Regions from separate parts of the Homo sapiens genome. Here region 2 is linked to region 1. The links come from fine-mapping of genetic effects on gene expression. A gene starts in region 1. The other region holds a variant in brackets. All regions are shown on one strand. Distances are between the middles of the regions.

Region 1 (4,386 bases):
AAAACCCCGAAGTATATGCCTCTCAACATAAAAGCCAAAGTCTTTTCAAGGGACTACAAGCTCTTTAACCTCTTCCTCTCCTCCTTGCCCACTCTGCTCCAGCCAAGATAGCTTTCTTACTCTTCTGACATGCCAGGCACATTCCTGCCTTAAGGCATTTCCACTGTTTCCTCTTCCTGAAATGTTCTCCCCCTAGATATCCACACATGGCTTAACCCCTATAAAATATCACCTTCTCAATAAGACCTACTCTGGGGCTGGGTGCAGTGGCTCATGCCTGTAATCCCAGCACTTTGGGAGGCCAAAGTGGGTGGATCACAAGGTCAGGAGATGGAGACCATCCTGGCTAACACGGTGAAACCTCGTCTCTACTAAAAATACAAAAAATTAGCCAGGTGTGGTGGCAGGTGCCTGCAGTCCCAGCTACTCAGGAGGCTGAGGCAGGAGAATAGCTTGAACCCAGGAGGCGGAGGTTGCAGTGAGCCAAGATCACACCACTGCACTCCAGCCTGGGCGAGAGAGCAAGACTCGATCTCCAAAAAAAAAAAAAGAAAAAATCAATTAGATTAAAAAAGCAAACAATCTGTATTAGCTTTCTGTTTGTTTTAGAGACAGGATGTTGTTCTGTTGCCCAAGCTGGAGTGCAGTAGTGTGATCATGGCTCACTGCATCCTTGAACTTCCGGCTTCAAGGGATCCTCCCCCCTCTTACCCCGAAACCCTCACCAGTAGCTGGGACTATAGGTGCTGCCACCATGCCTGGCTAATTTTTTTTTTTTTTTTTTGTCCATAGGGACTGAGTCTTACTATGTTGCCCAGGCTGGTCTTGAACTCCTGGCTTCCAGTGATCCTCCCACCTTGGCCTCCCAGTGTTGGGATTACAGGCATGAGCCACCATGCCTAGCCTGGTGATGTTTTCTTAAACTGGCTAAGTTTATGAGTATTTATTATACTTTATAATTTACATATTATATTATTTTCCAGATATCGAATATTTTATATATATATATATATCTTTTTGAGACAGGGTCTGGCTCTGTTGTGCAAGCTGGGGTGCGGTGGCACCATTGTAGCTCAATGCAGCCTACAAGTCCTGGGCTCAAATGATCCTTCCCCCTCAGCCTCCCAGGTAGTCAGGACTACAGGTGCGCACCACCATGCTTGGCTAATTCTTTAAGATTTTTTACAGAGGTGGGATCTCGCTTCTTTTTTCTTTTTTTTTTTGCCTAGGTTGGTCTTGAACTCCTGGCCTCAAATGATCCTCCCACCTCAGCCTCCCAAAGTGCTGGGATTACAGGCATGTGCCACCGCGCCCAACCCTCAAATATTGTATTGTAAAAGACAATGAAAAGCATACAAAACAAAAATGATCAGTGAGAAGCTAGGTGGCGTCAAATGCCCGGGCAAAAAGGGGTTAGGTCTGCAGCGCTATACTCAGATGTAACTTACAGATGCAACTAGCGGAAACAGCATTAAATTTGTTAACTCAATGCTTGGTGGCCAGAAATTCATGTCAGGATAATTCATTTGAGCACAGACTAAAGGGTTTGGACTTGTAGTTATAGTCCAAGTTTCTCAAACTTGCTGGGTTTTATGAATCATCTGACACTTTAGTTAATAATACAGATTTCCAGGCGACTCCCTTATAGATCCCTTTTCTGTGGGCCTAGGAAGCAGCCAATCAGTATTTCATGGGTTCGGTGCCACCTATCCCAACTTGACAATGAGAGATCGCTCTGCATGCCAGGTGAAGGACCTGACGCTGGCGGGCGGCGGGGACTACCAGGTCAGCCCCAGGAGAGCCGGCTCCGGCAAGCTCCCCCAAGGCATGGCAGGAGCCCAGTGCAAGTTAGCACAGTAAACCCAATCAACAAGCCGCAGTCACCCCTCTTCCCCAGAAATGGCCTCTTCAGCTCTTGCGGGGGAGACTCTGAAAGTCCCCAAAGGACAGAAGTCTAGGAGGAAATGATTGCCGCAGAAAGGGATACAGTCTTGGCTACTAAAAACCGCGCGGAACCGCCTAGGGACCCGCTCCCAACCACCCACCTCCGGTGCTTCTACCCCCTCCCTCGCAAACGCGAAGAAAAGAAGAAACGCGAGATCCCAGTGCAGAGGCGTGGTCCCACCCTGGCCAATGGGAAGTGAGGGCGTGACTTTAAGTCTTTCTTTCATTGGCCCAGGGTCCCAGGCCGTCCAGGTCTTGGGGCGCCGCGGCGGAAATCGCGCGGATGCCAGAACGCGCTCTCAGCTTCGGGTCCTGCGGCTGCGGCTGCCGCCATCATGGTGCGGAAGCTTAAGTTCCACGAGCAGAAGCTGCTGAAGCAGGTGGACTTCCTGAACTGGGAGGTCACCGACCACAACCTGCACGAGCTGCGCGTGCTGCGGCGTTACCGGCTGCAGCGGCGGGAGGACTACACGCGCTACAACCAGCTGAGCCGTGCCGTGCGTGAGCTGGCGCGGCGCCTGCGCGACCTGCCCGAACGCGACCAGTTCCGCGTGCGCGCTTCGGCCGCGCTGCTGGACAAGCTGTATGCTCTCGGCTTGGTGCCCACGCGCGGTTCGCTGGAGCTCTGCGACTTCGTCACGGCCTCGTCCTTCTGCCGCCGCCGCCTCCCCACCGTGCTCCTCAAGCTGCGCATGGCGCAGCACCTTCAGGCTGCCGTGGCCTTTGTGGAGCAAGGGCACGTACGCGTGGGCCCTGACGTGGTTACCGACCCCGCCTTCCTTGTCACGCGCAGCATGGAGGACTTTGTCACTTGGGTGGACTCGTCCAAGATCAAGCGGCACGTGCTAGAGTACAATGAGGAGCGCGATGACTTCGATCTGGAAGCCTAGCGGATCTCCCACTTTGCATGGCTGTCTTTTACAGATGGGAAAACTGAGGCCTGATGCTGGAGATTCTATGAGGGTGCTCTCCTCAAGGGTATCAGACGGTCGTAGGTTCTTAAGAATTTGATTCATCAGTGGCAGGCCATGCATAGAGCCACGGGAGGTGCGTCCTTGTTTTCCAGGGAATGTTCTTAGAACTTGGACTACTGATTATTAATTGACTGTGCCTTGGGAAACAGTGGGAAGTAACTTGGTGCAGCACTGGGGTATTGTTGGCTTCTTGTGTTGGAAACTTTGTAATGTAAAAGGAAAAACTGGAAATCCCCACGCCCTGTTTCCCTTTATCGTCTTGTGGTTGGACTGGTTCAATTCGTTTAACTCGAATTCTTGCTCCTGGCCGTGGTTAAGCTGTGTACAGATGATGGAGAGTTTGGCCTCAAGTTTTTATAAACTGAGCGAGACTAGTGTTCAGGATCTCCTCCCTTGTTTAAATGTCAATAAATGCCCCAACTGCTTTGTAAGTGCAACTTTTTAATCTGTCTGGTTTTCTTTTTTTCTCTAGAGACGGAGTCTTGCTCTGTCACCCAGGCTGGAGTGCAGTGGCGCGATCTCGGCTCACTGCAACCTCCGCCTCCCGGGTTCAAGCAATTTTCCTGCCTCAGCCTCCCGAGTAGCTAGGAGTATAGGCGCCCGCCACCGCGCCCGGCTAATTTTTGTGGTTTTAGTAGAGTCAGGGTTTCACCATGTTGGCCAGGCTGGTCTGGAACTCCTGAACTCGTGATCCGCCCGCCTCGGCCTCCCAAAGTGCTGGGATTACAGGCATGAGCAAACTGCGCCCAGCCTCTGGTTTTCTTACATAGAGTCATATTTATACGTCCCAGGAGCCCAGAGAAGAATAGAGTCAGCAGCGAGTGACCTGCCTGTGGATTAGATGTGCAACAGGGCCACATGTGGAGGATGCAGGATGTTGTACAGGATTGGGCAAATTTGTCACTTTACCAGTCCCTTCCTTGGAATGAGTGTTTTGGCAGAGCTCTTCCTCACATAACTTCCTGTTGATATTCCAGCCCCAGGAAATACCGTATTAGAGGGCTGGGATGTTTGCTTGCCTAAGGAAATAATCACTCTGTAGCTTGGCCATCTAGCGGTTAGAAGTGGCCCAGGAGGTTCCTGGAAATTTAGATGATAGCAGTGATAGAGAATAAGAAGGGAGACTACCAAGTTTTACTCAAGATTTCTTTATTCTTTTTTCTTTTTGTTTTTTTTTTCACACAAGGCCCAAGCTGGAGTGCAGTGGAGCTGTCACAGCTCACTGCAGCCTCGATCTCCTGGGCTCAAGCAGTCCTCCCACCTCAGCCTCCCCAGTAGCTGGGATTATAGGCATGTACCACCACCCCTGGCTAGTTTTTAATTTTTGTAGACACAGGGTTTTGGCATGTTACCTAGGCTGATCTCAAACTCCTAAGTTCAAGCAATCCTGCCTCAGCCTCCCAAAGTGCTGGGATTACAGGTGTGAGCCACCGTGCCTGGCCAAGCCTTCTAAAAGGAGAATAAATAG
Region 2 (4,386 bases), 72 kb after region 1:
CATGAGCCACTGTGCCCAGTCTGGTTTGGATTTTTGTAATGGAATCTTTTAAAGCTAAAAATTTAACTGCTTTAGCGTGGACTTCAGAGATCTTTGGCATTTTTCCCAAAGGCAAGGGTTTTGTCCCATTTCTTGCGGCCAAGAACTTCCCTTTTCCCACAGTCTTACATGTCCTGTGCTAAATGTCATCTGTCTCCCTGGAAGTTACCATACGTCAAGGACCAAATGATTTATGATGTTAAATTGAGGTCTTCTACAGAGACAAAGAAGGAAGGAAAGGTGAAGAACTCTTATTATTTTCATTATTGCTGATAGTTTATGATACTGTAAGTAACAATTAGGTAAAACCTCATTTGGATGTGAGAATTTTGCTGTATTAAAAATTTCTGGTTGGGTGTGGTGTGGCTCATGCCTGTAATCCCAGCACTTTGGGAGGCCGAGGCGGGTGGATCACAAGGTCAAGAGATCAAGACCATCCTGGCCAACATGATGAAATCCCGTCTCTAGTAAAGATACAAAAATTAGCTGGGAGTGGTGGCGCTCACCTGTAGTCCCAGCTACTCGGGAGGCTGAGGCAGGAGAATTGCTTGAACCGGGAGGCAGGGGTTGCTGTGAGCTGAGATCGCGCCACTGCCCTCCAGCCTGGTGACAAAGCGAGAATCCATCTCAAAAAAAAAATTCTGAGCACAAGGGTCTTGGACTTTAGTTTTGTGAATATTAAGTGGCCTGGAGGTTTTCTCTAAGGAACCCAACCTAGTACTTATGAATGAATTGAAAAGACCCTCCTTTAGAAAGGAGCTGAACTGTTTTTTTTTTTTTTTTTTTGAGATGGAGTTTCACTCTTGTCACTATCTCCGCTCACTGCAACCTCCGCCTCCTGGGTTCAAGCGATTTTCCAGCCTCAGCCTCCCAAGTAGCTGGGATTACAGGTGCCCGCCACCACGCCCAGCTAATTTTTGTATTTTTTGTAGAGATGGGGTTTCAGCTTATTGGCCAGGCTGCTCTTGAACTCCTGACCTCAGGTGATCAGCCCGCCTCGGCCTCTCAAAGTGCTGGGATTACAGGCGTGAGCCACCATGCCTGGCCAGGAGCTAAACTGTTTTAAAGAGGTAAAAGTTAAGACTCATTGTGAGTATATTTTAGTTTCATTTTCTGACTTTTATGCCTTTATTGTCTTGGAAAAGACATAGTAATTTTGGAGTACTTAAACTTTATTTTCTAAATATTAAGCCCCATTTTACGGCAGTGTGGCTGGTCCATTGCAGTGCCAAGATTAGAAGTCATAGAACCTAACCCTGATTATTTGTTCAGATACAACCTCTAGTGTAATATCAGCCATTTCACTGCTTCTGTCTACCATCCTGCCTTGGTATATCAGACAATTCTCGTACTTTCTTTTTCCTAATCAATTATTTTAACATTTTCCCCCTAAGCACACCTCCATGCGAGATCTTGGTTGCTCTTCCTGACCACTAAAATAACCACTGTTTTCTATTCCTATTCTTCTAGAATAAGGGAAGATGTTCCTAGAAAAGGTAGTTTAGCCTACACTTCTCAGTGCTGGAGGGCCTGGCATCAGCCCTTTTATATCTGATTTTGAAAAGGCCCCTTAGGAACCTAACCGAGTTAGCTTCTTAAGCGTTTGGTTCACTTTTTAAAATTTTTTTAGTAAGAGACAGGGTCTTGTTCTGTTGCCCAGGCTGAAGTGCAGTGGCTTGATCCTAGCTCGCTGCAGCCTGAAACTCCTGGTCCCAAGTGGTCCTCCTTCCTCAGCCTCTATAGTGGCTGGAACTACAAGCATGTACCACCATGCCTGGCACATTTTTTTTTTTTTCTAAAGAGATGGGGGTATTGCTTTCTTGCCTAGGCTGGTCCCGAACTCTTGTGTTCAAGCAGTCTTCCAGCCTCGGCCTCCCAAAGTGCTAGGATTACAGACATGAGCCACTGTGTCCATCCAGCATTAGGTTGTTTTTTTTTTGTTTTGTTTT[T/G]TTTTTTTTTTTTGAGACAAGGTCTCACTCTGTCACCCAGACTGGAGTGCAGTGGCATGATCATGGCTTGCTGAAGCCTTGACCTCCCTGGCCCAAGGAATCCTCCTACCTCAGCCTCCCAAGAAGCTGGGACTAAAAGCGTGCACCACCACACCACCATGCCCAGTTAGATTTTTTATTTTTTATTTGTTGTAGAGACAGGGTCTCGTTCTGTTGCCCAGGCTGGTCTTAAACTCCTAGGCTCAAGTGATCCTCCAGCCTCGGCCTCCCAAAGTGCTGGGATTACAGCCATGAGCCACTGCACCTGGCTGGCATTAGGTTGTTAAACATGGACATGGAGGGTGCGAACAGGAGGCAGAGAAGCTCCAGAACTCATGGGAAACCTTATTTATTAAGGATTGCTGATCTCTTAGGTCCAAACTATAAAATGGTAAGACCGAAACAGTAGATTAGAGATGATTTTTCTCTTTAATTTATGCTTCTGAGATAAGCATTTCAGTTTTTGTTTTCTTTTTTTTTTTTTTTGAGACGGAGTCTCGCTGTGTCGCCCAGGCTGGAGTGCAGTGGCACAATCTCGGCTCACTGCAAGCTCCACCTCCCGGGTTAATGCCATTCTCTTGCCTCAGTCTCCTGAGTAGCTGGGACTACAGGCGCCTGCCACCACGCCCGGCTAATTTTTTGTATTTTTAATAGAGACAGGGTTTCACCGTGTTAGTCAGGACGGTATTGATCTCCTGACCTTGTGATCCACCCACCTCGGCCTCCCAAAGTGCTGGGATTACAGGCGTGAGCCACCGCGCCTGGCAGCATTTCATTTTTCCTTTGGGAAAGGCCGTTTCTGTAGTATGTACCAGTTTCCTCTGAAATACCAAATCCATCCACAACATACCGGCACAGTACTTGTCACTTTTTTCAGTGTAGGTAGCACAGGTAAGTTTATTGAATTATTCTGAAGCCAGAATTTATTTCTACAGTAATTTCTGGGCAGGTTCTAAAAAAGTCATCTGTGACTTTAGGACTGAAGTGTTTGGGGATGTTCATCCATTAGTTACTTGTTCATTGCTTGAACACCTAGCTAATCTTTACCTTTGCATTTGTTTTGATGTGAATCATTATTACAGATACACGTCATTATGATAATATGATGATATTCATTATATACATCATTATTACAACCAATCTTTTAAAAAATGGGCTATTTAAGGCTGGGCGCGGTGACTCACGCCTGTAATCCCAGCACTTTGGGAGGCCAAGGCAGTCGGATCACCTGAGGTCAGGAGTTCAAGACCAGCCTGGCCAACATGGCAAAACCCCGTCTCTACTAAAAATACAAAGAAATTAGCCAGGCATGGTGGTGTACGCCTGTAATTGCAGCTACTCCAGAGGTTGAGGCAGGAGAATCACTTGAACATGAGAGGTGGAGGTTGCAGTGAGCCGAGATCACGCCACTGCACTCCAGCCTGGGCGACAGAGTGAGATTGCATCTGAAAAAAAAAAAAAAAGAAAAAAAATGGGCTATTTAGATGATCTACAATGATCATATGTTTCTGTTGCCGAGGCTGGAATGTGGTGGCACAGTTATGGCTGACTGCAGCCTTGACCTCCCAGGCTCAAGCGATGCTCCCACTTCAGCCTCCTGAGTAGCTGGGACCACAGGCCCGTGTCATCACATCCAGCTAATTTTTTTTTCTCATTAATAGAGATAGGACCTCACTATGTTGCCCAGGCTGGTCTGAAATTCCTGAGCTCAAGCTATCCTTCCGCTTCAGCCTCCCAAAATGCTAAGATTATAGGCATGAACCACTGTGCCCAGCCCATATGTTTCTTTCTTTTTTTTTTTTTGAGACAGAGTGAGACTCTGTCGCCCAGGCTGGAGTGCAGTGGTGCGATCTCAGCTCACTGCAACCTCCGCCTCCTGGCTTCAAGCAATTCTGTCTCAGCCTCCCAAGTAGCTGGGACTACAGGTGCCTGCCACCATGCCCAGCTAATTTTTAAATTTTTAGTAGAGATGGGGTTTTGCCATTTTGGCCAAGCTGGTCTCAAACTCCTGACCTCAGGTCATCTGCCCACCTCGGCCTCCCAAAGTGCTAGGATTACAGGCATGAGCCACTGTGTCCCGCCACTTACGTTTCTTTTATAATGAAAAATAACACTTTCTGAAAAGTACTATGTGTTCTTTACACGTTTAAGATTATGCTATTAAATGCTGAGATCTCAGTTTTTAATATTATTGCAAATCTGGCCTTTTTATAAACTAGAAGATTTATAAGTAAAACCTAGGCCTTTTGGGATGTGATGGTGATGACCCTTTGGTAGATCTCAGGAATCCCTCAGCTTCCTTTGTGGCTCTCGGTGTTTTATTTAACGTTCCTGAATCTGTTTTGTCTTATTTCCTTAA

Which allele goes with the higher level. Alleles are on the strand shown, and positions count from the first base shown. SD is a standard deviation of normalised expression in the study named.
For the expression in regulatory T cells of the gene that starts at base 2,224 in region 1, T is the high allele of the variant in region 2 and G is the other (large effect, 0.85 SD a copy in Schmiedel 2018).

Evidence for each region. PIP is the estimated chance that this variant, and not a neighbour inherited with it, causes the effect.
Region 2: its variant is the best candidate, but not a certain one, in a credible set for the expression of IMP3 in regulatory T cells (Schmiedel 2018, PIP 0.70).

The regions. Positions count from the first base shown.
Region 1 is chr15:75,638,062-75,642,447 of GRCh38, reverse strand. It overlaps IMP3 (IMP U3 small nucleolar ribonucleoprotein 3), which reads left to right and starts at 2,224. Exons shown (of 1, transcript NM_018285.4): 1 at 2,224-3,355. The coding sequence starts at 2,280. The coding sequence ends at 2,834. RefSeq lists a silencer at 2,070-2,229 and an enhancer at 2,520-2,579.
Region 2 is chr15:75,566,123-75,570,508 of GRCh38, reverse strand. All of the region lies in intron 1 of PTPN9 (protein tyrosine phosphatase non-receptor type 9), which reads left to right. Among named protein-coding and RNA genes, the nearest start is that of PTPN9, 11 kb to the left of the region's middle. The variant T/G (reference allele first, on the strand shown) is at 1,989.